Linked DNA regions of Homo sapiens. The protein of the gene in region 3 purifies or fractionates together with the protein of the main gene of each other region. This does not show direct contact. Each region holds a gene or a part of one and is shown on either strand. Other genes may lie near its edges.

What was found.
Region 1: the proteins of PDE4DIP (region 3) and PRKACA purify together in Homo sapiens (affinity purification with mass spectrometry; 5 studies listed by BioGRID and IntAct, with this or other methods). This does not show direct contact.
Region 2: the proteins of PDE4DIP (region 3) and PRKAR2B purify together in Homo sapiens (affinity purification with mass spectrometry; 6 studies listed by BioGRID and IntAct, with this or other methods). This does not show direct contact.
Region 4: the proteins of PDE4DIP (region 3) and CDK5RAP2 purify together in Homo sapiens (affinity purification with mass spectrometry; 4 studies listed by BioGRID and IntAct, with this or other methods). This does not show direct contact.

What each region holds. Positions count from the first base shown.
Region 1 is NC_000019.10:14,093,759-14,100,781, forward strand, and holds part of PRKACA (cAMP-dependent protein kinase catalytic subunit alpha), read right to left. Parts: intron 4,133-7,023; coding exon 4,006-4,132; intron 3,917-4,005; coding exon 3,821-3,916; intron 3,726-3,820; coding exon 3,603-3,725; intron 35-3,602; coding exon 1-34.
Region 2 is NC_000007.14:107,039,800-107,047,723, forward strand, and holds the start of PRKAR2B (cAMP-dependent protein kinase type II-beta regulatory subunit), read left to right. Parts: upstream 1-4,905; 5' UTR 4,906-5,108; coding exon 5,109-5,415; intron 5,416-7,924. UniProt on the Homo sapiens protein: Regulatory subunit of the cAMP-dependent protein kinases involved in cAMP signaling in cells. Type II regulatory chains mediate membrane association by binding to anchoring proteins, including the MAP2 kinase.
Region 3 is NC_000001.11:149,001,423-149,008,445, reverse strand, and holds part of PDE4DIP (myomegalin), read right to left. Parts: intron 6,856-7,023; coding exon 6,420-6,855; intron 5,597-6,419; coding exon 5,404-5,596; intron 4,836-5,403; coding exon 4,716-4,835; intron 3,538-4,715; coding exon 3,009-3,537; intron 1,246-3,008; coding exon 1,010-1,245; intron 3-1,009; coding exon 1-2. UniProt on the Homo sapiens protein: Functions as an anchor sequestering components of the cAMP-dependent pathway to Golgi and/or centrosomes.
Region 4 is NC_000009.12:120,388,370-120,395,185, reverse strand, and holds the end of CDK5RAP2 (CDK5 regulatory subunit-associated protein 2), read left to right. Parts: intron 1-547; coding exon 548-674; intron 675-5,398; coding exon 5,399-5,445; intron 5,446-5,893; coding exon 5,894-5,950; 3' UTR 5,951-6,311; downstream 6,312-6,816. UniProt on the Homo sapiens protein: Potential regulator of CDK5 activity via its interaction with CDK5R1. Negative regulator of centriole disengagement (licensing) which maintains centriole engagement and cohesion. Involved in regulation of mitotic spindle orientation.

The DNA.
Region 1 (7,023 bases), on a different chromosome or scaffold from region 3:
TCAAGTCAGAGCTGAAGTGGGAAGGGAAGCGCACCTGGAGGAAGGGGTACAAGGACAGGGTGGGAAGCTGGTCTGGAACTTGGGAAGCCCATGATGCTTCTTTCTCCATCCAACGGTCCTACTGGGTGTGGGCCTCCAAAGCAGAGTGCCTGCCAGCATCTTGTAAAACAGCTCCTTGAGCCTACCCTACAGTTTCCAATTTAGGAAGTCTGATACTGTGGCCTGAGAATCTGCATTTCTTTAAAAACTTTAAAAATTCAAGAGTTAGTTATTTTAAGAAGTTTTTGTAGAGACAGGGTCTCACTACGTTGCCCAGGCTGGTCTTGAACTTCTAGGCTCAAGCGATCCTCCTGCTTTGGCCTCCCAAAGTGCTAGGATTATAGGCGTGAGCCACCACACCCAGCAAGAATCTGCATTTCTTTTTTTGAAAAAAAAAAAAAAAAAAAAAAAAAAATAGCCTCACTCTGTAGCCCAGGCTGGAGTGCAGTGGTGCGATCTGGGCTCACTGCAACCTCCGCCTCCTGGGTTCAAGGAATTCTCCTGTCTCAGCCTCCTGAGTAGCTGGGATTACAGGCTCACGCCAAGACACCTGGCTAATTTTTGTATTTTTAGTAGAGACGGGGTTTCACCATATTGGTCAGGCTGGTCTTGAACTCTTGACCTTAGGTGATCCACCTGCCTTGGCCTCCCAAAGTGTTGGGATTACAGGTGTGAGCCACCGTGCCTGGCCCAAGAATCTGCATTTCTAACAAATTCCCCAGCAATGGTGCTGCTGGAAAGGGGTCCCTTTTAAGAACCATTGCTCTAAGGCAAGTGCTATGATGATTTCCATTTCAGAGAAGGGGAAACTGAGGCTTGGGTTAAACAGCTCTTCCTAGGTCACATTGAGGTGTGTGATGGGGCAATTCCATCTCAGGTCTACTGGACTCTAGAACTTGCATTCTCAGCTGCTGCTGCTGCTGCTTAAGGCATCTCTGCTGGGGTCTGGAGACTTCTGAAATATTCTTGCTTATGACAAACTTTTTCTCTCCTCTCTTTCTGCATAGCTAAGGCTCTTCCGTTCTTTAAAGCCCAGCTCAACTCTTCTTGAAAGTTTTCCCCAAACCCTCTGAGCCCACGCCTTGTATGCAAGTCATCACTGGAGTTATAGTTGCAAGAAACGACTTCTTGTTCCTGCTGTGCCTCTTACACGCTGTGTGACCTTGGCCATGGCCCTTAACCTCTCTGGGCCTGCGCATGCCTCTCAGATGTGGGGCAGATATGCCAGGGCTGCACGAGGGAGATAATACCACTGACGGTGCGGGGGAACTAGAAAATGCTACAAAGAAGGGAGTCATGTGCATCTTCTCCTGTGGGATCTTCTGTGTTTTTTTCTTTCTTTTTTTTCCCACTCTGGGACATTTTTTTTTCTTTTTTTCTTTTTTTTTTTTGAGATGGAGTCTTGCTCTGTTGCCCAGGCTGGAGTGCAGTGGCACAATCTCAGCTCACTGCAACCTCTGCCTCCCGGTTTCAAGTGATTCTCCTGCCTCAGACTCCTGAGTAGCTGGGATTACAGGTGTGTGCCACCATATCCGGCTAATTTTTGTATTTTTAGTAGAGACGGGGTTTCACCATGTTGGTCAGGCTGGTCTTAAACTCCTGACCTCGTGATCCGCCCGCCTCGGCCTCCCAAAGTGCTGGGATTACAGGCGTGAGCCACCACACCCGGCCAACTCTGGGCCATTTTCTTGGCAGTTTCTTTTGGTCCGGTGGCAGATGCCTCATCTTTCCCTTTTTTTGAGACAGAGTCTTGCTCTGTCACCCAGGCTGAAGTGCAGTGGCGCAATCTCGGCTCACTACAACCTCTGTCTCCCGGGTTCAAGCAGTTCTCTGCCTCAGCCTCCCGAGTAGCTGGGATTACAGGCACCCGCCACCACGCCCAGCTAATTTTTGTATTTTTAGTAGAGACAGGGTTTCACCATGTTAGCCAGGCTGGTCTTGAACTCCTGACCTCGTGATCCACCTGCCTTGGCCTCCCAAAATGCTGGGATTATAGGTGTGAGCCACCGCGCCTGGCCTTCATCTTTCTCTTTTAGTGATGCTATGTGTCCAGCTGGGGCACCCCACTTGCCTGAATTTTTTTAAAAGACAGGGTCTGGCTCTGTGACCCAGGCTAGACTGCAGTGATGCAATCACAGCTCACAGCTCACTTCTGGGCTCAAGCGATCCTCCTGCCTCACCCTCCCGATGAGCTGGGAACACAGGGGTGCACCATCACGCCCAGCTAATTTTTAGTTTTTTTTTTTTTTTTTTTTTTTTGAGACAGAGTCCTGCCCTGTTGCCCAGGCTGGAGTACAATGGTGTGATCTTGGCTCACTGCAACCTCCGCCTCCTGGGTTCAAGTGATTCTCCTGCCTCAGCCTCCCAAGTAGCTGGGATTACAGGCGCCCACCACTATACCCAGCTAATTTTTTTTGTGTGTGTTTTTAGTAGAGACGGAGTTTCACCATGTTAGTCAGGCTGGTCTCGAACTCCCGACCTCAGGTGATCTGCCCGCCTTGGCTTCCCACAGTGCTGGGATTACAGGTGTAAGCCACCGCGCCCGGCCAGTTTGTTTTTTTTTTTTTTTTTTTAGAGATGGGGTCTGGCTATGTTGCCCAGGCTGGTCTGGAACTCCTGGCCTCAAGCCTCCACTTCCCAAGGTGCTGGCATTACAGGTGTGAGCCATTGTACCCAGCCCCAAAGTTTCAAAGCCAGTCGGTGGCAGAGCTGGGACTGGGGCCCAGGCTGAGCCTGAGGGTGCTCCCACCACAGTGTCATGACTCCGGGCCAACCAAAAGCTCCTGTGTAGGAGATGCTGGACCAAGTCGGGGGATGGTCGGGTCTTCCCAGCAAGGTGGTTGAGCTGAGGGCAGAGGTGGGGTCCCCAACCTCTCTCCGGCCATCAGTGCCTACAATGATTGCCTACGGTGATTACCTACTCACCAAAGTGTGATCTTGGCCAAGACACATCCCTTTTCCCAGCCTGTTTCCTCACCTCTCCTACAGAGGGTGCCACTATCTCAGGGTGTGACTGATGGGGATTCTGGGGCCTGGTGGATGGTGGGCACTTTGCACCTGTCATAGATGTGAGCTGAGATGGCTTCACCACCCCTCATCTGAACCCTCAGAGTTAGGCAAGTCTGGGTTTGGGAGAGGAAGCATGGGCTATAAATGCTAAGTGAGGGCAATCCTGGGTGAGGCTATGGACAGCACCTGGGAACAGGAACCAAATACATTCGTTTTTCTGCCTTGGAATTTGCGAAAACTCACACTAACTGGGATGAGGAGCGAAAAGGAGGGTCGTCTGGCAGGGCGGTTTGTGTTCTGTGGCCAAGATGTTCCCGTGAGGCTCGGGATTTTGGAAGCCCATGGGATTCTGGAACCGCGGGGTTGGGGCTGGACAGCAAGGGGGCTTGAGGTGTTGGCCTCAGTGTGGCCGGCGCGTCCAGCTTCACCACCTGGCCTGACTTAAGGAACTTCTAGATTATTCTGACAACAAGCAGGGCTCCCCAGGGAATAGGATGGGTGAGCAGGGAACGGTCTGTTTCTTCCAGGGCTGTGTCCCCACATCCGGACCTCACCTTCCCAGAGACGATCTTCTCATAGATCTGGATGGGCTGGTCTGCGAAGAAGGGCGGGTAGCCAGCGGCCATTTCATAGATAAGAACCCCCAGGGCCCACCAGTCCACGGCCTTGTTGTAGCCCTGGAGCAAGATGGGGGGGCACAGGGTGAGGAGGAGGCGAGAGCAGGAGAGCAGAGCCGGCCTCAGGGGAAGGGGAGGGCTGGGGAGGCTCCTACTTTGCTCAGGATAATCTCAGGGGCCAGGTACTCAGGGGTGCCGCACAAGGTCCAAGTGCGGCCCTTCACGCGCTTGGCGAAACCGAAGTCTGTCACCTGTGGGCACAAGAACAGGCAGTTGGCAGGGAGGAAGGGTCCAGGCCACGGCTTCCCCAGGGCTGCCCCTCGCCCGGCCTGGTGGGCACCTGAATGTAGCCCTGCTGGTCAATGAGCAGATTCTCCGGCTTCAGGTCCCTGTAGATGAGATCCAGCGAGTGCAGATACTCAAAGGTCAGGACGATCTGGGCCGCGTAGAAACGGGCATGGGGCTCACTGATGGGGACAAATGGGGAGGTGAACGTCAGTGGTCATGCCCCAAAATGGTCCAGCAGGTGGCCCTGCAGAGCCTACCCCAGAGGAAGACACCTCCAGTCCAGCCGTCAGAAACGCAAGGCACCTGATTCTTAGATAGCCCGACATGGGAAACAGCCTGTGGGTCCATCCACAGGAAAATGGAATCACAGACTGAGCTATAGTCATACAATGGAATTCCACTCACCACCACCACCGCCAACAGGACAGCCCATGCATCCACTCAACAATGTGGCTGCATTTCAAACTGATTATGTTAAGCAAAAGAAGACACAAAAGAACATGAATGATTCCATTTATATCATGTCCACGCCCAGACAAAACAAAGGCACGGTGTTTGAAGTCAGAAAGGACAACTGCCTTTGGTGGGGAGGTGACGTGTCAAGAGAGGGATTCGGCCCGGTGCGGTGGCTCACCCCTGTAATCCCAGCATTTTGGGGGGTCGAGGTGGGAAGATCGCTTGAGCCCAGGAGTTCGAGACCAGCCTGGGCAATATAGGCAAGACCTCACCTCTGTATGTATGTAGATATGTGTGTGTGTGTGTATATATATATATATATTTTTTTTTGATTAATTTATTTTTTTTAAGACAGTCTCGCTCTCTTGCCCAGGCTGGAGTGCAATGGCATAATCTCGGCTCACTGCAACCTTTGCCTCCTGGAAACAAGTGATTCTCTTGCCTCAGCCTCCTGAGTAGCTGGGATTACAGGTGTGCACCACCACGCCCGGCTAATTTTTATATTTTTAGTAGAGACGGGGTTTCACCATGTTGGTCAGGCTGGTCTCGAACTCCTGACCTTGTGATTCGCCCGCCTCGGCCTCCCAAAGTGCTGGGATTACAGGCGTGAGCCATGGCACCCGGCCTCCACCTCTGTATGTTATTGGAAAAAAAAAAAAAAAAAAAAGGGATTCAAGGGAATTTTCTTAGGTGATAGAAAAGTTCCATATACTGTTTTGGGTGGAGGTTAGGTAGCTATATACAACTGTCAAAACTTGTAGCATGGAACATTGAAGAACTGTGCATTTTGTTGTATGTAAAGTGAATCTATAGTTATCTATCTAAAATACAACTACAAGGCCAGCGCGGTGGCCCATGCCTGTAATCCCAGCATCTTGAGAGGCCAAGGCGGGGGGGGCGGATCACCTGAGGTCAGGAGTTCGAGACCAGCCTGGCCAACATGGTGAAACCCCATCTCTACTAAAAATACAAAAATTAGCCAGGCAAGGGGGCATGCACCTGTAGTCCCAGCTACTTGGGAGGCTGAGACAAGAGAATCACTTGAACCCGGGAGGCAGAGTTTGCATGGAGCCGAGATCGTGCCACTGCACTCCAGCCTGGGTGACAAGAGTGAAACTCTGTCTCAAAAAATAAAATCAAATAAAACTACGTATGTAAACTTATAAGTTAATAAGACAAATTTATAAGTTAAAAATTTTTTTTTTCTTTCAGCAGGGTCTGACTGGGTTACAACCCAGTCTGGACTGCAGCAGCGTGATCACGGCTTATGCAGTCTTTTTTTTTTTTTGCATATGTTGAACCAGCCTTGCATCCTAGGGATGAAGGTGGGCTCATGCAGTCTTGACCTCCCAGACTCAGGTGATCTTCCCACCTCAGCCTCCCCAGGAGCTGGGACTACAGGAATGTGCCACCACACCTGACTTTTTTTTTTTTTTTTTGTATTTTTTTGTAGAGATGGGGTCTTGCTATGTAAGGCTGGTCTCAAATTCCTGGGCTCTAGCAATCTGCCCACCTTGGCCTCCCCAAGTGGGATTATAGGGCATGAGCCACAGTACCCAGCCTGTATCTTAAACTTACAAATTTCTGTATATAGATTTATTTTATGTATAAAAATATATATTAAAATCTACACATATAAAACTGTCCACCTATATAAAATAAAATAATAGTATAATTTTTATTTTATTTTTTTGAGACGGAGTCTCGCTCTGTCACCCAGGCTGGAAGTGCAGTGGCGCGATCTCGGCTCACTGCAAACTCCGCCTCCCGGGTTCACGCCATTCTGCCTCAGCCTCCCGAGTAGCTGGGACTATAGGCGCCCGCCATCACACCCGGCTAATTTTTTTGTATTTTTTTAGTAGAGACGGGGTTTCACCATGTTAACCAGGATGGTCTTGATCTCCTGACCTCGTGATCCGCCCGCCTCGGCCTCCCAAAGTTCTAGGATTACAGGCACGAGCCACTGCGCCCAGCCAATTTTTTTTTTTTAAAAGAGACAAAACCTCACTATGCAGCCCAGGCTGGTCTCAAATTCTTGAGCTCAAATGATCTTCTCACCTCAGCCTCAGGACTAGTGGGACTACAGATGCATGCCACCTTTTGGGGCTCAAAAAATGCACAAAATCAACAACTTCAATTTTTTTTTTTGAGACGGCATGTCACTCTCTCACCCAGGCTGGAGTACAGTGGTGTGATCTTGGCTCACTGCAACCTCTGTCTCCTGGGTTCAAGTGATTCTCCTGCCTCAGCCTCCCAAGTAGCTGGGATTACAGGTGCCCACCACCATGCCCAGCTCAGTTTTGTATTTTTAGTGGAGACAGGGTTTTGCCATGTTGGCCAGGCTGGTCTCAAACTCCTGACCTCAGGTGATCTGCCCACCTTGGCCTCCCAAAGTGCTGGGATTACTGGTGAGAACCACCGTGCCTGGCAGCAACTTCAGTTTGGACACCTAAGTTGCCCTGTTTGCTCTGTTTTGTTTTGTGGTGGTTGAAATATCACATATTCCTCAGCAGAGGGGAAACAGAAACCCACAGGGTCTGGGAGACCACCTGCATGTTGAAGTATGCTGGACTCCTCTGCATTCCCAGGGGGCTTGGTCGTGCACTGCCACCTG
Region 2 (7,924 bases), on a different chromosome or scaffold from region 3:
CCTGGTGTGAAAACAAATTTGATAGCACTCTTTTCATTTCAATGCTGAGCTCTCAGAGTTCATTTGCCATTGCTTCCAGTCTGATTCTCTGAGAAACTGGTGCAAATTGCTTTGCAAATCCACAACCAAAGAATCAGTATCAGTGATGCTCTTTTAAGGAATATGAGATACATAGTTCCCATAAGCCACTGTTCAAAAGGCTCAAAATGAAATATTCTGAAAATGAAAGCAAAAGAAATCATAAAATATTACCAAAAAGGTTATGTGGTAGTGAATAAAAGCCAGAATATGATTTGAGAAGTGAACATTTGTTCTGAGAACAATGCTAATGTAATGGGAATATCAGGACCAAGCTTTACTTTTTCAGGTCATGGTTATTGATTTAAGAACTGATGCAAATGAAAATTACCAAAGAGCTGTTTGCAAAGATGTTTCAAGTCCAATAAGTCTTGTTTTAGTATTATACTATTGTAAATCTCTCAGGATGAAAAAGACTATATAGGTCATCTAATCCAATTACGCATTTCATGCTTGAAATCATTGCTATATTCTTAAAGAAATGAGAACCACACAACCTTGGCATTGTGGTTGATGACAGAGAGCTATCTACCATGCTTCATATAATAAATCTACAAGAAGAAATAAATGAATTTGGAAACACAAAATGGCATTAACAAGATATGGCTCTTAATAATGTTTGGAAAAGTAGTGCTTTTTTTAATTTTGTCATTCCTAGGGAAAAGGTATTAGACATTGTGGCAGAGATTGATAATTATCTCCAGACTTTTTTTTTTTTTTTTTTTTTTTGAGACAAGGTCTTACTCTATCACCCAGGCCGGAGTACAGTGGCACAACCACAGCTCACTGCAGCCTTGACCTCCCTGGGCTCAGGCGCTTATCCCACCTCAGCCTCCCGAACAGTTACGACCACATGTATACCACCAAGCCTGGCCAATTTTTGTATTTTTTTATAGAGATGGAGTCTCCCTATGTTGCCCAGGCTGGTCTCGAACCCCTGGGCTCAAGCGATCCACCCTCTTTGGCCCTCCAAAGTGTTGGGATTACAGGAGTGAGCCACTGTGCCCGTCCAGACTTGGTTCTTTTTAATTCCCAAATGTTTACTTGGCACGTGACTGCTCAAAATAAATATTACATTTCCAAACTTTCCTAATAGCCATTGGTTTCAGTTGCTATTGCTGTGTAACAGATTATCTCAAAACCTAGAGGCCTACAACAACCTTTTTATTATGCTCACAGATTCTGTGGAACAAGGCTTCAGCCAGGGCATCCAGTACAGGGCTGGCTTCTTCTATCATGCTGACTTGACTTTTACAATGTTCTATTGGTCAAAGAAATCACAAGCACATTCAGATTCAAGGGGAGGGGAAATAAGACTTCAATTCATTAGTGAGTAGTGGCCACGCCACACTGTAGGAGATATTGTTGTAGCCGTCTTTGGAAAATGCAATTTGCCACACCAAAGGTGTGGCCATGTTGACTAAGTTCTAGCCAAGAGGATAGAAGAGGAATTGTGTTTAACTTCCTAGAAGGAAGGGAGGGGAGGGGAGCTTCCCTTCTCTTTTTCACTTTCCTCTTAGCTAAAATATGACTGGCCCTGGAGCAGCCATTTTGGACCACAGACAGGATCATAGAGCAATGAGCTGGAGGGAGCCTGGGTCCCTGATGATCATGGAGTACCACACTGTGTCCGGAATTGGTGGGTTCTTGGTCTCACTGACTTCAAGAATGAAGCCGCAGACCCTCGCGGTGAGTGTTACGGTTCTTAAAAGTGGCGTGTCCAGAGTTTGTTCCTTCTGATGTTCGGATGTGTTCGGAGTTTCTTCCTTCTGGTGGGTTCGTGGTCTCACTGGCTCAGGAGTGAAGCTGCGGACCTTCGCGGTGAGTGTTACAGCTCTTAAGGCGGCGCATCTGGAGTTCCTCCCGGTGGGCTCGTGGTCTCGCTGGCTTCAGGAGTGAAGCTGCAGACCTTCATGGTGAGTGTTACAGCTCATAAAGGCAGTGTGGACGCAAAGAGTGAGCAGTAGCAAGATTTATTGCAAAGAGCAAAAGAACAAAGCTTCCACACTGTGGAAGGGGACCCGAGCTGGTTGCCACCACTGGCTCAGGCAGCCTCCTTTTATTCTCTTATCTGGCCCCACACACATCCTGCTGATTGGTAGAGCCCAGTGGTCTGTTTTGACAGGGCACTGATTGGTGTGTTTACAATCCCTGAGCTAGACACAAAGGTTCTCCATGTCCCACCAGATTAGCTAGATACAGAGGGTCCACACAAAGGATCTCCACGTCCCCACCAGAATAGCTAGATACAGAGTGGCGATTAGTGCATTCACAAACCCTGAGCTAGACACAGGGTGCTGATTGGTGTGTTTACAAACCTTGAGCTAGATACATAGTGCCGATTGGTGTATTTACAATCCCTTAGCTAGACACAAAGGTTCTCCACGTCCCCACCAGACTCAGGAGCCCAGCTGGCTTCACCCAGTGGATCCCGCACTGGGGCTGCAGGTGGAGCTGCCTGCCAGTCCCGCGCTGTGCGCCTGCGCTCCTCAGCCCTTGGGTGGTCGATGGGACTGGGCGCCGTGAAGCAGGGGGCGGCGGTCGTCGGGGAGGCTCGGGCCGCACAGGAGCCCACGGAGTGGGGGGGAGGCTCAGGCATGGCGGGCTGCAGGTCCCGAGCCCTGCCCCGCGGGAAGGCAGCTAAGGCCTGCGAGAAATTGAGCACAGCAGCTGCTAGCCCAGGTGCTAAGCCCCTGACTGCCCGGGGCCGGTGGGTCCGGCCGGCCGCTCCGAGTGCGGGGTCTGCCGAGCCCACGCCCACCCGGAACTCGCGCTGGCCCACAAGCACCACGCGCAGCCCCAGTTCCCGTCCGCGCCTCTCCCTCCACACCTCCCCGCAAGCTGAGGGAGCTGGCTCAGGCCTTGGCCAGCCCAGAAAGGGGCTCCCACAGTGCAGCGGCAGGCTGAAGGGCTCCTCAAGCGCTGCCAAAGTGGGAGCCCAGGTAGAGGAGGCGCCAAGAGCGAGTGCGGGCTGTGAGGACTGCCAGCACGCTATCACCTCTCAATACCAACTCTGAACTGCCCACATTTAGATTCCAGAGAAATAAATCTTAAGCTATTGTATTTCGCATTTTCTGCCACATGTGAGCAGTGTTTATCATAATTAATACAAATATTATCACAAATTTAGACAGGTGATACACATGCATCTTAGATTACCAGATCCGTAAAAATAATAATGCTTACACGGTAGAGAGTAGTACTAACATTGTGCTCCAACCGGTGACATGTGAGGCTCACCATATTTTATAAAAGTTTAATTCTTTTTTTTTTTTTTTGAGACGAAGTCTCACTCTTGTCCCCCAGCCTGGAGTGCAACGGCACTGCACGATCTCGGTTGACTGCAACCTCCGCCTCCTGGATTCAAGCGATTCTTCTGCCTAAGCCTCCTGAGTAGCTGGGATTACAGGTGCCTGCCACCATGCCCGCTAATTTTTGTATTTTTAGTAGAGATGGGGTTTCACCATGTTGGCCAGGCTGGTCTTGAACTCCTGACCTCAGGTGATCCGCCCACCTCGGCCTCTCAAAGTGTTGGGATTACAGGCATGAGTGAGCCACTGCGCCCGGCCAAAAGTTTAATTCTTAAAATGCTCGACACAATTAGAAGCACTTAACTACTGTATATTTAAAGCAACGTAACATTATTACTATAAAGTTGTTAAGAAATGAAAATAGAGAAATACATTGGCTCATGGAGTCAATACAGGATGCATCATTAACAAAGGGTTAACATCAAGATCCATTTTTACAAGAGGGACTAGTTCGTTACATCTCTGATTTCTAGACTTGGAGTTTCCCCAGTCATGTGTTTACTCTTCCGTGGGTGGGAAGATAAATCAGAATAACCAAGTGAGCTTGCTCTTGAAATATTTTATTTACAATGATATGATAATTGTAGAAAATGAAGTATGCGTACTTAAATAGAATTTAATTGACAAAAGACAATTTTCTCTACTTCAAAATTGTAAACATTTGCAAAGTAAGCCTCATTTCAAAGTCAAAGCCTTCTACTTTAAAAGCACACATTAGTAATTCTATTTTTCTTTATACTGAAGTATTTCAATTTTTGGACATACAAGTCAAAAATCATTCAAAGCATAAAGGAAAGTTTCAAAATAATAAGCGCCTCATCCTGCACTATCCTATTTAAAAGAGATCAACTAACTTTGATAGGTGCCTCTCAATAAATGGTGCCTTTGTCTCAATAAATAGTAAATGCGTGGAGTGCACAACGGAATAGCATCAGTAAGACGAAACATAATAAACAGGATGGATCGGGAAAGGCTGGATAAAATGTGGGGAAGAAAAAGAAAGACGTCACAAAGATGGGGTAGCATTTCTTTGTCCAAAAGAGAACCAGTACCACCATAAGACTTTAAACAAAGGACATTAGCAACACTTATCATGCAACTAGATTCTAGAAGGAAAATAAAATGCCACTACTAAGGTGGAGGCTGAAGTTTCAAGACAAATCTCCTGGCACCACCTCTGCGGGGGTTCACCATGGCGAATGACGCCTGGGAAGCGGGGCGAGTGGCCAGCCCGCTCCTGGACGCGCGGACAGGTGGACACGAAGGCGGCCTCGCTGGGCCTCCCTCCGCCTCTCCCGGCCCGGGCGCGCAGCCCTGCGGTGGTCTGACAGGCGGGTGCGCGGCGCCAGCCAGCGGAGGTTGCCATGGTTTCCGGGGGTCACGTGGGCGCGCTCTCCTGCGCCCCCTCCCGCGCACCGCGGCGGGGCGGGGGCGGGGCGCCCGGGCGGGGGAGAGGCGCGGCCGCGGCTGGAGCGGGAGGAGCAGGAGATGCTGCCAGCCCTCCCGGGGCCGCGCTCGCTCAGCCGCCGCCACCACACGGAGCAGACGCGCGCCGGGAGCCGCGGGCCGGGCCAGCCGGGCCGCCGGGGCCCAGTGCGCCGCGCTCGCAGCCGGTAGCGCGCCAGCGCCGTAGGCGCTCGCTCGGCAGCCGCGGGGCCCTAGGCCGTGCCGGGGAGGGGGCGAGGGCGGCGCCCAGGCGCCTGCCGCCCCGGAGGCAGGATGAGCATCGAGATCCCGGCGGGACTGACGGAGCTGCTGCAGGGCTTCACGGTGGAGGTGCTGAGGCACCAGCCCGCGGACCTGCTGGAGTTCGCGCTGCAGCACTTCACCCGCCTGCAGCAGGAGAACGAGCGCAAAGGCACCGCGCGCTTCGGCCATGAGGGCAGGACCTGGGGGGACCTGGGCGCCGCTGCCGGGGGCGGCACCCCCAGCAAGGGGGTCAACTTCGCCGAGGAGCCCATGCAGTCCGACTCCGAGGACGGGGAGGAGGAGGAGGCGGCGCCCGCGGACGCAGGGGCGTTCAATGGTGAGGACCAGACCCCCCACTTCGCGCCCCCGGATCCCCTCGCTGCCCCCCACCGCTCCCCGCTGTGCTCTCGGATCTTGCCGCTTTGCGCACCCACCTCTCCCCGCATTCTCCACCTTTCCCTACCTTCCCATCTCGCCCACCCCCTCAGCATCCATTTCTGTCTCTCCCACTCGCCCACCTTCCTACTCCGCTCTCTGTCATACCCTCTTCCCTTCCTCTAGAGGTGGGAGAGCTGGGATGTTACGCTTCCCTCTTACCCTTTGCCCCCTCTGCCTGGGCCGGTTGGGGTGGGCATCTGCTAGAAAGACAACTTTCGCTGTGGTTGGAGGTATTTCGCTTAGAGGATACCATTGTGCATAAAGAAACTGGCCCGCTTGGCGTCTTCTTTCAGCCCTTGTATTTATTAATGGAATGTCGAAAGAGAAAAGGAGAACCGTGTTTAATATGATTGGCTTTACTGTTGTTAGGACGGTAGATTCGCTAAAAGAAGCATGAAATTGGACTCACTGGGGCAGAACAAAATTTATGGCCAGTAGCTCTGACATTCTTGGAAATAAGAGTTATCTATTATTTTCCAATTTACCAATACCGTGTTGTGTTATTTTTGGACACGTAACAAAGGATTCTATTTAGTCTGAAACCCACGGGGGTCTTTGGAACGAGGAAATGGGTTAATGGTTTGCTTTTTATATAAAAGACATATTGAATGATTTGGTGCTTTATTTTTTTAAAAGTGTATGAGAAAAACACTGTAGGAAGTTCTGAAAGCTTGTTGGTTGTCTTTAGAATGAAAAGCCAGTGAGTAATTGTAAGGATTGTGCCAGACAGTAGAGCTAGAAAGAATGAATGGGAAAGAAAAAGGAATTTTCTCAAATAGCTGCTCCTGGCAAGTCCCACCCCTTCTGCTTACAACCCTCTTTCCCTAACACACCCAGACACACACCCTCATTTACAGCCCCTTGTATTACACAACATGCCCAAATCTCATTTTTATGGCAACCCAAGCTAAAATACCATGGAGTGCAGTGTGCAAGTGTTTTCTCTTTGTGGTGTAAGGCAAACATGCATGCAGCATTGCACCAGCTTTTATTTATTTACACTGCTTGTGGTTTGTGTGTCCGCAGTGTATTTCATAAAATGAAAACATTTAAAAGTGTCATTTCATTTCCTTGTGTATGCTCCTAGGAAGATGTTTCTTTTCTTTGCAGGATTACATGTTGAAATGGATTATAAAATTAGTGTATTTTTAGTTTCTCCAAAAGAATCCCAGAAACCCTGGAAATTAGTGCGCTGTGAAGATAAAAGTGAAGCTTGTTACTTACAATTTTAATTTTGGACTTCTAAATGTTTCCCCAAGAGGATAAACATAGTCTTAATAATTCTTTTTGCACAAGAATCGAATCAAAAGCTTTTCCTACCAGAAACGAGAAAGAGAAAAGAATGCATGTTTTAAATAGGTAAGAAGCAGCAGCCAGTAACGGATGACAGAAAGGGCAGAGATATCTAATACTTCTTTTATGCTCCTGACATGTTCGTGCACACACACAAAGGGGAAAAAAAGGACTCTTTTCCCAGGTTGGAGAAAACTAGGAACTAAGGGGCTTGGTAAAGACCATATATATATATATATTCTGTATGATATGTTGTTAATATAATCAAAATATTTTGTTTGTATAATGCATTTGTTGAAGTACTTTGCATTGATGATTGCATTTTCTCCTTATAACAATATATTGCGCACAGAAAAGATTCCATTTTCATTTTGTAGTGAAGAAATAAGCCGTTAACTTCTGAACAGCAGGGGTCATTTTATATGGCTTTATATTCTCCAAGGCACCTTTGCTGTAAAAATTGCTCAGTGTGACTTAAACAAGTTAAACTTGTTAAACAATTGCACTATTTACTCCCTAGCCTCACCCCCAAGGACTTTAAAACTTTTTGACTGCAACCAAATACAATTTGATCATTATCCAGGAGGCACATACATCTGTATAACAGAAACTTTGGCAATAGTACAGGTACTTCCTTCTGTCAGATGCAGTGCTTTTTGATATTTCCTATTTGAATCAGTTATTTCTCCCTATTTTAAATTGTATTGAGACCTCCAGTTGAAAAACATTTAATTATAGGCTACAAAGTGATTGGCAAGGTTTCTTGTAAAGGGCCGGTTAGTAAGTGTTTTAGACTTAGGGCAACATGTGGTCTTGATCACTTCTTCTTCAGTTTTTTTTTTTAAACACATACACCTTCTGAGGGTTGCGGTTGTACAAAATTAGCTGCAGATCAAGGCCATAGCTTGCCGACCCCTGGTTAGAAGAAAAAAAAAAAAGTCAAAATAGTACCATTGGGGGAAAAAACAGGAGTGATCCTAAAAAGTATGAGCCTATCAGTTTGACATCTATGTCCAGAAATGTGTCTCATTAGAAAAGAACCCCAGATACTGGGCAATTCTGGCATAGTAAAGAATAAGGATTGGAAAACAAGTCTTAATTTACTATGACACAGC
Region 3 (7,023 bases):
CTCTGTAAACCAAATTTAGAAAGAGACGATAAGAAATTAGGCTGGTCCCACTTCCCGCATTACAAATGCAGGAGCCTATCTGGAGACAGAGTAGTGAGCATTTCATGTGTGCATCCAGAACAGTTATTCTGGGATACCTCAGCTTGTGTCTCTAGAGAAGTGACCCCACTGTCCCTGACCTGCCGGTCACCATGATGACTTCCTCTGCCCTAAATCAGGGTAAAACATTTATAATGTCTTTTGTTCCATTAATCATGAGGCCCTTGCCCAGCTGCCCTGCGGGACACTCCAGCCTCCATGTCCTGCTGCAGACTAGCTCCCCAATGCATATGCCCCACCACAGCTTTCATGCAGAACCTGCACTGGTCTCTGAGGAGATGACAAGAAGCCCTGCCCCACCTCTGCATCTGCCACCAGGTGGTGGGCTGGGTGGCTCCCAAGTCTGATCCTACTTTACTCCCTTGGATAGTCGCTGGAAATTCTGAGTAGAAGACCCCAATAATAACCAATGTAGCCCTTGAACTACTGCAGCCAGTGCCTAAACCATGTATAAAAGAGCATGGCGCTTTATCCATATGTGGAGTACCTGCATGCACATTACCATGCCATAAATGGAGACACCACAAGGATAAGGCATTTAGCGAGTTGGTGGCAGCATCCAGGCCAGAGCTTGAGTCTTGTAGTTCTTGGTTCAGGGCTCTTCCTCCTATAACAAAGCCCTTCCATCTCATGTCCCCTACTCCCTCTTAGCATCAGAGAGATGCTGCCCCTGCCCCACAGGTCACATTCCATTAGTGGTGAAGTTTCTATAGTTGTAACCATGGCATCTCCAGCCCTGTGTTTTCCTCTCCATGCTCCCCACTGAGCAGTCTTGATCCTGTATTAGCCCCAGGAAATGAAATAGAAACAGGACCTTAGGATAAAAAGTTGCAGTGGAGATGTGGTGGCCACCAGGGGCTGGAACTGTGGGGGTGACTGAGAGTATTCCAAAGCCCTGTGGCCAACTTACTGGTGCTGAGTTTGCTGGTGAGCCTCTCTGTCAGCTGGCTTCCCTGGGCGAGTTGCTCCCGGAAGCTCTGTCCCAGGTAGTAGTCAATGTCATTGCTCCTTAGGAGATCCTCAAAAGATTTTACTGTATCTTTTGCATGCCGGGTGATAAGATAACAAATACCTCTCCCTTCTCGTATTTTTTGCCGTAGGTAAGACAGTTCCCGGGCCTGATCCTGAATCAGGGAATCATATTTCCTAATGCAGGACAGAAGAGGAAAGTGTAAGTATGGAAAGAGTGGAAGCTAACTTATGGAGTTATGGGGGCTTCTGTAGAGATTTCTATGAGAACATCTCTAAGGAACTCCCCCAAGCTGAATTCTGGCACATAAGCCATAGGAGGTATTTAAGAGTAAATTCTACCCTGATAAAGTATTGCATTAAAAAACTTAGTACGGGCCGGGCGTGGTAGCTCACGCCTGTAATCCCAGCACTTTGGGAGGCCAAGGCAGGCAGATCACAAGGTCAGGAGTTTGAGACCAGCCTCGCCAATATGGTGAAACCCTGCCTCTACTAAAAATACAAAAAAAATGAGCTGAGCATAGTGGCACATGCCTGTAATCCCAGCTACTCGGGAGGCTGAGGCAGGAGAATTGCTTGAACCTAGGAGGTGGAGGTTGTAGTTAGCCAAGACGGCACCACTGCACTCCAGCCTGGATGACAGAGTGACTCCGTATCAAAAAAAAATTTAGTATGTCACTGTTCTTCAACTGTTATACATGTGTTAATTATATGTCCCTAGATAAATCATAAGGTCTGTGAGAATAAACATAGTTCTGCATTTTACATCCCTTACAGCACCAGTATCACATAGATTCACAGCAGTTACTCAATGAATAATTAGCATCATTTCATCCTAAGTCTAGATAGAACCTTTCATGCCTTCTGTTTTAACCACCACCTGATGCCTGAATTTCTTCTATGTTACGATACTGTGGCTGACTACATTTTGCAATGATGGCCATCATTTAAACGCTCATACCATCAACTGATGGGACCCAAAACAAGAGACCCTAAGTGAGAACCACCCAGCTGAGCCCAGTCAAACCATAGAACCATGAAGCATAATAAAGTGTTGTTTGAAGTCACTAAGTTTTAGAGTGGTTATTACTTAGCAATAGATAACCAGGACACACCAAGATGAATGTCTGTGTTTTCAACACTAAGTATCAATAACACTTATAACTATGGCAAATAGCATTGAGAGCTTAACATATGCTAGGCACTATTCTAAGCACTTGTATTAATTCTTTTTTTTTTTTTTCCGAGACAGACTCTTGCTCTGTCACCCAGGCTGGAGTGCAGTGGTGCCATCTCGGCTCACTGCAACCTCCACCTGCCAGGTTCAAGCGATTCTCCTGCCTCAGCCTCCCGAATAGCTGGGATTACAGGTGTGCACCACCATGCCCAGCTAATCTTTGTATTTTTAGTAGAGATGGGGTTTCACCGTGTTGGGTAGGCTGGTCTCGAACACCTGACCTCAGGTGTTCTACCTGCCTTGGCCTCCCAAAGTGCTGGGATTACAGGCATGAGCCACCACGCCTGGTCAGCAGTTGTATTAATTCATTTAAACCTAATATCCACCCTTTGAGATGGGTTCTCTTATCATCCTCATTTAATAGGTAAGGACAAAGGCTCAGAAAGGTTAAGAAGGTTGCATGGGTAGTAAGCACCAGAGGTAGGTAGTCTGATTCCAGTATTACTACTATACTATACCATCTTTACTAATATATCCCTAAGAGGAAATCCCTGAGACCCGGTATCTCCCAGATACTGGAACATCATCCTATGCCCTCCTGGTTGCCTACCTGTCTTTTCTGCAGACCTGTATCTACCATTTAAATCAGTGTCCCTGTGAATACCCAGACATGTTCTTTCTTCCAACTGCCTGAGCTACCCTACGCCAAGCATGAACTTACACATTTTCAATCAAGAAAGTACCCAAACAGTGCCATCCTTACCCAGGCCACGAGGCTGATCTCAGCTCCTCAGCCAGCTTCTCTTCTAGTCCATTTTTTGGGAGCTGGGCCTCCAGCTGGGATACTCTCTGGATGAGACTCTCCAGGTCCTTTTTGGCCTGAAGCCCTGGAGAGTAGAAAGCCCCAGTGCCATCAGACAGCCACCCCTCATCCTCATCAGGGACACTATGAGGTGAAGACCCCTCCAAGGTGCCAACAGCTCTCAGCTTCCGGGGTCTTTCCAGACTAGACGAATAATCACTTGTAACTGAGAGGGACCGGACCCGGCTCTTGAGGTTTTGAATGACCTTGTTGGCATTCTGCAGCTGGGCCTTCAGATCTTTGATGTCCTTTCGTAGGACCAAGATGTTTTCTGACTTTCCATATACCCGGAACTCTTCCTGCTTCCCTAGCTGGTTCTCCAAGGGCTTCCTCTCAGAGGAACTAGCCAGTGTTGAGCCCCGGCGTCCCTGCTCAGAGCACAGCCCCTCCATCAGGACCATTTCCTTGAGGCTGTTGTGCTCCTCACACTCTGAAAAAAGACAAAGATGTCTTCCTAAATAAAAGTTGGATGTGCTGTTGTGGCCACTGCCTTTGAGAGGAGGCAGGTTTGGTCATGAGGACAATAATTACTAGGGAAAAAGTTGAAGTAGTACTTTATTCAACCCTGACACTGTACTAGGCATTCAAATACAATATTTCTTATCTTCCTTATACCTACAAGTTAGGTTTCATCACTTTCTATTTTACTGACTGGGAAACCAAAACTTAAAGAGAGGTGGTAAACTAGCTTGTTCTAGATCACTCAAACTAGCACATGGCAGAGCCAGAATTCAAATCCTCCAATGTCCTGTGTTCATTCCACACACACTGGTGTTTCTTAAGACATTAACATGGCCTTATCTATTTAGGATGGCCACAAGAATGTAGGACAAGCTATTACTGCATGCTGAAAGTTTAATGCTCTTTAAATTTTACTATAATTTAAAAGTTTATTGGGTTACAACTGTATGAAAAATAGGCATAGGAAAATAAGGCTTCAAATAAATATATCAGCATGTTAACATCAGTGTATTAGGGCAGTGGTAGTCAGAATGAGAACTAATCCATGGCATTTTACCAGATGCCAGGCACTGTTCTAAAGCATTTTATAAGAATTTACTCATTTAATTGACCTTAGTACCTGATGGGGTAGGTAGTTCCTTTATTACTATTTTAACACATGAAGAAACTGGGACATAGGAAAGTTTTCAAACTGGGATTTGAACCAACCAGTCTGGCCCCAGGATCTTGTCTCTTAACTGCCACACTACACTGCCTCAAGAATGAGAGAGATTGTGTTTTTCTTCTCTTCTGGTTTTCAATGTGGTGGGTGGCCCTATAGTTGTAGTCTTTTTATAATGCAAAACAAAATTATTTTTAATTTATGGCTTGCATGTTTCTAAAACCTTATCTGGTCTCTAAGTAGGCCTTAGTATTTCTATAATAATCAGTTGGATAGAATTTTATATTATTATTGTTATTAGCAGTATGCCAAAAACTAATTGTAGAAATTCAAACTTATACTCAGCCTCATTTTGGGTAAGATTTCTCCTATTAACCTCCTGTCCTCCTCTTCCCCAATACTTGTCAGGTGTGGAATTGGCCAACAGCATCCAAATGTGACAGCTGACTCCAGGGAGGGGTGAGCCCCACACCCTGTGCTCTTACCAGGACTGGTGGTTTCCTCCCGTTCAGCCTCATTCTCGCTTCGGCCACAAGTCTCATAGCCCAGGTCCTGGAGGTCCACCTGGATCTGCTTGCTGTCCTGCTTCACCAAGGATTCACCTGCTTGGGAAGAGAAGCAGGTGTTACAGAATGTCTGAATTTCCCACATATGCCCTCAGCCTCAATGGCACATACCCTAACCTTTTGAGGCACGGAAGGCAGATCCACAGTGGGAGAGAAGCTTCTCTGAACTGGTGGGAGAAGAGATCACCAGCTCCAGGAAGCAGAATTTCTTTCCAAAGGAGGAGCCTGCATTTGCCATTATCTCCCCTTCAGATAACCCAGGCTTTAGTTGGGACCAGATATCTGTAAGTCAGGGATTGTACACTATCATCTCTAGCAGCCCCATTGAAGCTGGCAAGTGCTTTATCCGCAGGGGTTCAATAAATGTTGAATGGAGCTGAACTAATTTAGAGTCCCAAGACCCTAGACCTGTACTGTCCAATAAGGTAGTTAGCAGCCACATATGGCCACTTTATACTACATCAACTAAAATTAAATAAAACCAAATGTCCAAGTTGCACTAGCCACACTTCGTGTGCTCAATAACCACGTTATGTCGGTATAGAACATACAGAACTTATAAGACATATAGGCTAGTTTTCTTTACTAGTAAGTCATAGTTACTTACTAAGCATAACTCTGTATTTCTCCAGCTCGTTAGCCTGAGCAAAGACAGTGGCTTCTGATAGCAGCAGCTTCTCCTGGAGATCTTGATAGCGTTGTTTGCATTGTGACAGCTGGGAGCGCAGGTGCTGGGTGGACCCTGGTAGGCTAAACGCTGACTGAGGCCCAGGGTCACGAGGCTGGGACTGGTTATCCAACTGTGAAAGGGGCCAATACAGGGATCAGGACAGTCTGAGGTCACCCCCATGCAGTGACGACCACCGCCCCTTCTGAACCCTGTGGACTTTACTCAAGTCTGTCACAGCACTTCTCATGCCATTTGGCAGTGACTTGCTTTCCAGATGGAGCTCCTGGAGCGCTGGGATAATGTTTTCTTCATATCTGTATCCACAGCACACAGCACAGCACCAATCAAGTCTACAGAGGAGCTCTCAGGAAATGTTTTCTCAGTGGTCAAAAAGAGACCACTCATCTCCCCTCACATTCTGTCCCATTGATTCTCTCAGAATCCCTGTATTCTCCATTTCACTGAATCTTCAGCATGGCTCCTTCCCTAAAGAGGATCCCAGTAACCCATCTGAAGCCCAGGAACAGACACCTGTGATGAGCTGTGACAAAAAAATGGCAGTGATAAGGGATGTCATTACATACCACTTGTCTGGGCTGCCTCATAACCTGATGCATCCCTATGTTACAGCAGTTACCACATCCTGTTAAAATTACCTGTTTGTGTGCCATCTTTCCCGACAATATTAAGTATCTCAGGGGCAGCCATTGGTTTTATTGCCCCATGCCAATGCCTAGTGTGTTATCTGAAAAATTAAGTACTCAAGAAATATTTATGTTATAAAAGCCTTTCTAAAGGCTGAATGTAGGCAGAATATTACTATTATTGTTTGTGGTACAAAGAGACCCTTCTCTTGGTACCTCCTGATTCATATGGGAGAATGTTTTAAGGTAAACACTGTCATCTCAAGCCCTTCTCCAATTGTTTTTCACTCAATCTAAGCCCACACTTACTTGGTGGGCATCCACTGTGAAGGTAGCCCCAAGGTCAAGGCTCTGGGGTCTGGGGAAAGGCCTCACAGTCACATTCCCCTCCTCTTGGTGTTGGTGCTTCCCAGGGGAACCAACCAGTTCTGTGTTTATTCTTTCAATGGTGCTGGTCAGATGCACAAGGAGCTCTGGAGTAAGTTTACTATTCCCTTCCTTGCTACTCAGCACAAGTTGTTCTTTGAGGAGGTTGATGATATTGTGGGCATTCTTCAGTTTTCCCTGGAGCTTTCTGAACTCAGCCTGAAGGCTACTCTCACTCAGACCCTCTTTGGTTACCACAGTCTCAACCATCACCTCGCCCTTCTCCTTGTCTTCCTCGATCTCCCATCCATCAGACATTGCTTCTCCCATCTGCTCTTTCAGCTCCGCATTCTCAAGGCAAAGGCTCAGCATGGTGTTCCTGCAGGAAACACACTTAATTGAGGGCTAGGTCTGGTCCTCACAACAGTTCCTAATACTACCTCTTACCAACATCTCAGCCCGCAATTAACTCAGACTTACCCCAGAGCATGAAGCAACCTGAGACCTACCACAGCCCCCTAATTTTATATACAAGAAAGCCAAGGCT
Region 4 (6,816 bases), on a different chromosome or scaffold from region 3:
GGACGTGTTGTTCTGGGCTCTTTTGTCACTAACTGTGATCATTTTTTGATATCAATGCATAGAGCTCTACAACGTCATTTTTAATAGTTGCTAAATTATTGTATTATATGTAAGTACCATAATTTATCCAGATCTATACTGAAATCAGGTTATTTTTTCCTACCATGAACAATGCTGAGACGAACATCCTTGTACATAGGCATCTTCTTGTGCTTATGTTATTATTCCTTGGGGGAAATGCCAGCGTGTAGAATTGCTGGGGCAAAGAGTTAAGCGCATCTCAGTTTGGTAGATCTTGCCAGGGCGTTCTCACTGGGCCATGCCATCCCGCACTTCCACCAGAGGTCACGAGGTGCTTTCCCCTTACCCTCAATGAGTTTTGTCCAATTTTGCCTTTTCCTGGTTGTCAGGAAAAGGCTTCTAGTTTCCATTCAAATATTTTTGCTAGTGAGGTTGAGCATCATCTTTTTATATGGCTTTGTAATTCTTCCTGTGTAACATGATGTTTATGTTCTTTGTTCATTTTTCTAATTTCTCTTCTCTTTAGATTGGAGAAATGAAGGCAGAGGTCACCAAACTACATAAAAAATTGTTTGAACAAGAAAAGAAGTTGCAAAACACCATGAAGCTTTTGCAGCTGAGCAAGCGCCAGGAAAAAGTCATCTTTGATCAATGTGAGTGAGTGTGGGGGTGGCCGCTATGCCTGACCACTTCCTGCCTCCGAGGGCTCCCAGTTCTGCCCTGGATTACCCACTTTGGAGCCCAGATGGTTTGTAATCATGCCTCCTATCTGTGGGCTTCTTTTCATACTCCATCCTTTCTGACTCACATAGACAAATGTATTCACTTAACACACCTTTGTAGAGCGGCCTTTTGGTGTCAGGGACTGTCGTCTCACTGGGAGACAGTCGTGTGGCATGTGCAGTGATGGGAACATGCAGAGCACTGGGGTGGGAGTTGGGTGGCCGTCACTCTGTCCCGGCAAGGTGGGCGTCTTAGACAAAGTGACCACCTCGCTGAGTGTGAAATGAAAGCAGACGTCGTCACATGGAGCGGGGAGTGGCAGTCCCTCAGGGAAGAGCATGGACAGAGGCACAAAGGCAGGAAATAAGTTTTTGTATGTGAGAAACCAAAACCAGTCCCTGTGGGGTAAAGGCTGCAAACAGTGAATTAAGGTGGGAGGGATTGGGGGTCAGGGAGTACTTCATGAAAGACTGTAGGTGGCAGGCTCAGGGCAGAGGATTGGCCTGTCACATCTGTGTGCAAGAATGGCTCGCTGGTGGCTGCTCCACCAGTGAGGGGGAGGCTGACTCACTAGTCAGACAGGAAAGGTGGCTAGGACGCTGGGGATCCAGAGGAGGGCATGGATTTGAGAAATACTTCTCAAGGCAGATGCCGAGACTCAGGGTTGGTGAGGTTAAGTAACTTTTGTAAGGTCAGTCCCAGTTCTGATCTAGCCACTTTGGAGATTGTTTGGGAGCAGCTCTGTCTCCTGGTTTAAACCCTCAGCACTCCCTCCCGCTGCATTTAGAGGAGCAGGCGGTAGCTGAGTTTCCATTAGTGCCTGTTGGCAACATGGCCCTGGCCAAGCCTGCGCTGTCTGTGTGTCAGTTTCCCTGTCTTAAGAGAACTGCTGACTGCAGCACTTTTTCTCTGGAGGTGCCAGCCTGCCTTGTGCGGCTCTCCTGTCAAAGTCCAACATTTCTGGGGCATTTCTGAGAAGCACAGGACAGAGATTATTGCCAAGTAGGAGTTCTCCTTAGCCACCCCTGGGAACCTTCTGAAAATAGACTCTGTGAGACTGCCAGTGTTTGGACTGCAAAAGAGAGGAGCGCAGCCACTGAGCAGGCACTGAGTTCCTGTTCTTTGCCCCTTACGCCAGGTCCTGGGGACAGAGATGAACGAGACAGTCTTTGCCAGTGAGGGTCGTGGGCTTAATAGGGGAGACACAGAGCTTAGCTGCAGGACGATGTGCTGAGTGCATCCTAGGAGGCCTGAGAGGTGGTTCAAGACTGACTGGGTCTTGAAGAATGACTAGGAATTTGTCAGCGAAGGGGCAGGAATAGGATTCTGGCAGATGGCCCTGTGGACTTGCTGGTGTGCTCCCAGGGGTGAGAGAGAACTGAGTGCTCAGGGACATGCTTAGGACGTGCAAAGGGTTTTCCTCTGAGAGATGAGTGAGAGGGAGAAGCAGGAACCAGGTTGCAAGGAGCCTTGTGGACAGGACTCCAGGACGAGCAGCAGGGACCGGCGGGGTCCATGCGTGTATTACAAGATCCCATGGCTGAGCTTGGAGGGGCCAGGAGGCCGGGAAGACCTCTTTGGGGGCTGCAGCAGTCCCCCAGGTGGGCAGTGGGTCAGGACTGTGGGGGAGAAGGGATGGTTTTGAAAGATTGTAAGGAGGTCAACCTGGCAGAGTGGTGGATGTCTGTGGGGTTCTGGTTGAGGGTTTCGTGTCACTCGTAGAGAAAAAGAGCACTGAGGGGAACCTGGAGAGAGACAGTGCCAGCTGTGGTCCTGTTAAGGCAGCTGTGGAATATTTAGGTTAGACTCTTGGAGCAGCAGTGGGGTGGGGAGCAATGCTCTGCATAGGTCTAGAGAAAGGCAGAACTCTCTGCATTGGCATCTCTCCTCCTCAGCAGCCTTTGGCCCTGAACAGTCACAGGGCAGGTAGCTAACCCTATTGACAGGTGAGAAAATTGCAGAAGTAGGTTTCGATGGGTTGAGTACTGTGGTCGGTCAAAAGGACAGAACTAGAACCCAGATCCCCTGTGTCCTAGGTCAGAGAACATGGAATTATTGATTGAGCACAGTTCAGATCTCCATTCTCCTATGTGACCTGCATTAGACTAGAACCCTAAGCTTTCGATTCCTCATCTCTAACTGGAGACGTGAGTTCCAAAGGACTCAGACTAACTAGTTGGTCCCGGGTTCAATAGCAACTTTATAAAAAGCACCCCAGTTTTCTCATCTGTAAAATAAGGATGATAACGCTACCTAAACTGTATTGTACTTAGCACAGTCTCGGGGGCAGAGGAGATGCTCAACCAGTCCCTCCTCTTTCTTTCCATTAGGCCAGACCAAATCCTATGCATGGAGGTGGCAAATCATTCATAGTAAGAAGAGCCGCAAATGTCTCATAGCACTTCCCCTCCTGAGCTGGTATTGTCCATCTCCATATCTCCTAGGCCTGGCACAGAGCAGGCTCCGCCAGAGCAGGGTGAGGGGCTTGCTCCAGGCAGCATAGCTGGTGGCTGACCCGGGCCTGCAACTCCTCCTTTGCCAGGCTCTGCAGCTCATCCCAAGGAGTCAGGTCCTTGGAAATTCTCCAAGCCCTGCGGACTTCACAGACCTGCTCTGGGTCTAAAGGGACTAGGAGAAAGTTGGCATAGCACCTCCTCTTCCTCCGTCCCCTCATGGTGATGGGGAAGAGCAAAGGCCAGGGCTGATTGCTACCTGGTCAAACTGACACCATACCTTCTCAGAGTCTACAGGGGAAAGTAAGGAAAAGGCATCCCAGTGGGACCCTAAGAGTCCTGATGCCCTGGGGCCACTCACTGGCCATGTGACCTGGAACCAGCTGCCTCAGGTCCTCATTTGCAAAGCGAGGACAGTAGTTCTGCCCCATAGGGTGGGGGAGTATTCAGTGAGGCCACCGTTGGAAACCACCTGTCACCAGGTCAACACTGCTCAGCTCAGGTCGGTACCTTCTTCCCAGCACTCTGCTGAGGTGGGAAGAACCATGGACTGAGTTGGGCAGGCCCACATGTGAGTCCCAGCTCTGTGCTGGGGCCAGTCTAGATTTGGGACGAGTCCTTTGTCGCTGTGTTCCTCGGTCTTCTCCTTGCAGTGGGGATTTCTGTGCTTTGGAACGTGGCAGTGCTGTTGAGGTGTAGGGGTCCCCTCAAAGCTTGAGCCAAGTGATCCTTAGTTCTTCTGCCATGAGCTTTGTTCTCTAGGGACATGGAGTGCTCTTTCACAATCATCTTCAACCTCCACAGCTGTGATACTTAATCTTTTCTGGGTCTCAGGCCCCTTGGTGAATCTGGAGAAAGCTGTGGTCTCTCTGTGGAAAAATGCGGACGTCCAGATACATACCCCCATTTGCACACAGTGTCGGAGGGTTTAGGACTGACCCCCCAAACATATCCAGGGCCCCATGTCAGGAACTTTGCCCTGCAGCAGGAGGTCAGGTTGGGGTAGAGGGGCAGTGGCCACCTCTGAAAGTCGTTTTGCTTGGCTAAAAACAAAGTCCACACCGTCTGTCCCGTCCCCAGTGTCACAGATTGCAAATAAACTCCATTACCTCCAGATGGAAATTTTCGTGAGGCAAGAAATCAATATTTTCTCAAGGCCACCACACGACAGACACCTATTCTGAAGAAGCCACTGGGGAGTCAGGCTATGTGTGTTGGGCGTTGAGTCTGTTACAGCCTCTGGCACTGTTGGCTAAAGGCGCGGCTCCAGAAGCCTTTGGTATTTCCAACGTGGGGAGTAAGCTGATCTTACTCTCACCAAGCCCTGTTGAGAACAGATTCCCTATCAGGCTCAGAACTCTGATCAAGAGGGGCATTCTTGCCACTGCTGGAGTTTGTGTTGGACAAGAAAAAGCCTGAAGGAAGACCCACCTTTACAGTTGCTCCTGAAAGCCAGGGCTCGCCTGCCCCTCCTGGGAATTCTCATGCACGGGGGATCTTTCTAGTACAGTGCTCCGGGCGTCAGTGTCAGCAGGGACCTCTGAAACCATCCCACCCAACCAGCTCTTGTCCAGGCAGAATGTGACTTGCCCAGAGGAATCAGGCTGGGCTATTCCACCAGCTAAAGGGCAGGCAAAGGAGAAGCAGCATGCCCACGGTTTTTTCTTCCAGGCCATTTGGAGCTGGCTCTAAGAGCTGCTGGGTAAAAACCTGGCTTCGTAGAACTTGGACCCTCATATGTGGGTCTGCCTGATCGGGGCACAGTCCCTTCCCACAGCTGCTTCCCAGAGGGCCTAGGAAACTAAAGAGTGCTGGGCAGGCCCAGGCCTCTACCCTCCCTGCGCCATTGCCCTCCCTGGCCCACAGAAGTGAGCCTGAGGGATACCTGGACAGCCAGGTGGCCGTGCACAGCTGTAGGGTGTTCTCTGAACCGGCATAGCATGCTGTAGCCTCTGCATCACTGTCAGGTGGTGGCTTAGCGGGGCCTCAAAGAGGTGTTGTTGATGCGTTATTTGGCCCTGGGGTTTGTGATGGGTCAGGTGGGCCCTTTGTACCTCCCTCTGGTCTGGATGCTTCAGACCTCGTGTTGTCTACATGTCCGAGCCCTTTGGGGTGGGGTTCATCCTCCCTGCACTTGGCTTTCACACAGCTCTCCTGGATATCCATGGCCCTAATCATTGCATTCTTTGCTCTCTCCTCAGTGGTCGTAACCCACAAAATCCTTCGGAAGGCCAGAGGAAACCTGGAGGTATGCCCTTTGAGTCTTTTCACTGCAGGCCAGTGGAAGGTCAGGAGGAGTGCAGGGCCAGAAAGGACCTCTTGAAAAATGAAGGTGCAGGTGGAACCAGGGGACATGTCCTCCTCAGAGAGTTGTTTCTGCCAGCAGTGCATGAAAAGTTGTGTTTTATCATGCCCTGTCGCCAGTAGGGGTTCTAAGTTTTAAATTTGTATGCTATTTTTACCAGTAAGAAATACAGCAAACAATGCTTGACACATAGTAGGCATTTGATGAATATTTCTTGAATGAATGAATACAGTATGATCTCATCGTTGTTTATTAGGTAAATATTTACTGACCAAACTATGTTTTTGAAAGCACTTTGAGAATAACAGTCTCGCTTTCACCTCTGTCGGGGTCTTACTTCAGAAACCTCCTTTGGACTTAAAATTCTCCTTTTTTTTCTTCCTTTTCCTAGCTTAGGCCTGGGGGAGCCCATCCAGGAACATGCAGTCCCAGCAGACCAGGCTCCTGAGAAGAACTTTCAGCCAATAAAGCTTGTGCTTCCCCCACCGAGCTCACGCTGTCTCTTTGTTCCAAGTGTGGTTCCTATTTATTGAGGAAGAAAGAGCTGTCTGGCCAAAGGAAATCTATTTTTTCCCTTCATGTTTTCTCTCTGAAAGTTGGCTTGAGAGTTGTTGTCAGAAAGGTGCAGGTGCTCCACAAACGGGTGGTAAAAAGGCCTCGAGCTCTTGGATGTTGTATTTCAGATCAGGGGCAGGCACCGGAGTTGAGGCTGTGCGCCTTGGTGGGCTTCACGTCTTCCCCTGGATTTGCTTAGTACTCAGCCAGTGCCACAGTTTGAAGATTCTCATTAAATGATTCATTTCATTTCACCTTGACGATTCTGTTGTTTTGTGTGGCGCCTCAAAGCCCAGGTCCCAAAATCCCAAGTGGGACAGGCCAGGGTTCCACGAGTCGCATGGCTCACTGCTGAGCTCGTTCAAGTGTCCAGAGAAGAGCACCTCCGTGCAGCGTGGCCATGGGCACTGGTGTGTGCTCAGCATCTCACAGTCTGCTGGACAGCAGCCCTTGCAGTGGTGCCATTCCCGATTTAGCAAAGAGCAGAGTGAGGCCCAGAGCTGGAATGTGGCATTTGCATTGTTCCCGTGATGACAGGGGTGTGTCATCAGCCATCCACATCGCTGCCTCTGACCAAGATGCCCCCAGCCAAAACACTTTAGCGGCTTCCCACTACCCTCTGATCCAAGCCCGAGCCCCTAACAAGGTTTACAAGCCTTGCTGGCACCTCCAGCTCCTTGCCCATCTCGCCTCCTCCCGCTCCACTCTGTGTTCCAGGCAAACGGAACAGTGTTCTCCCCAGTCTAACCCAGGCTGCGC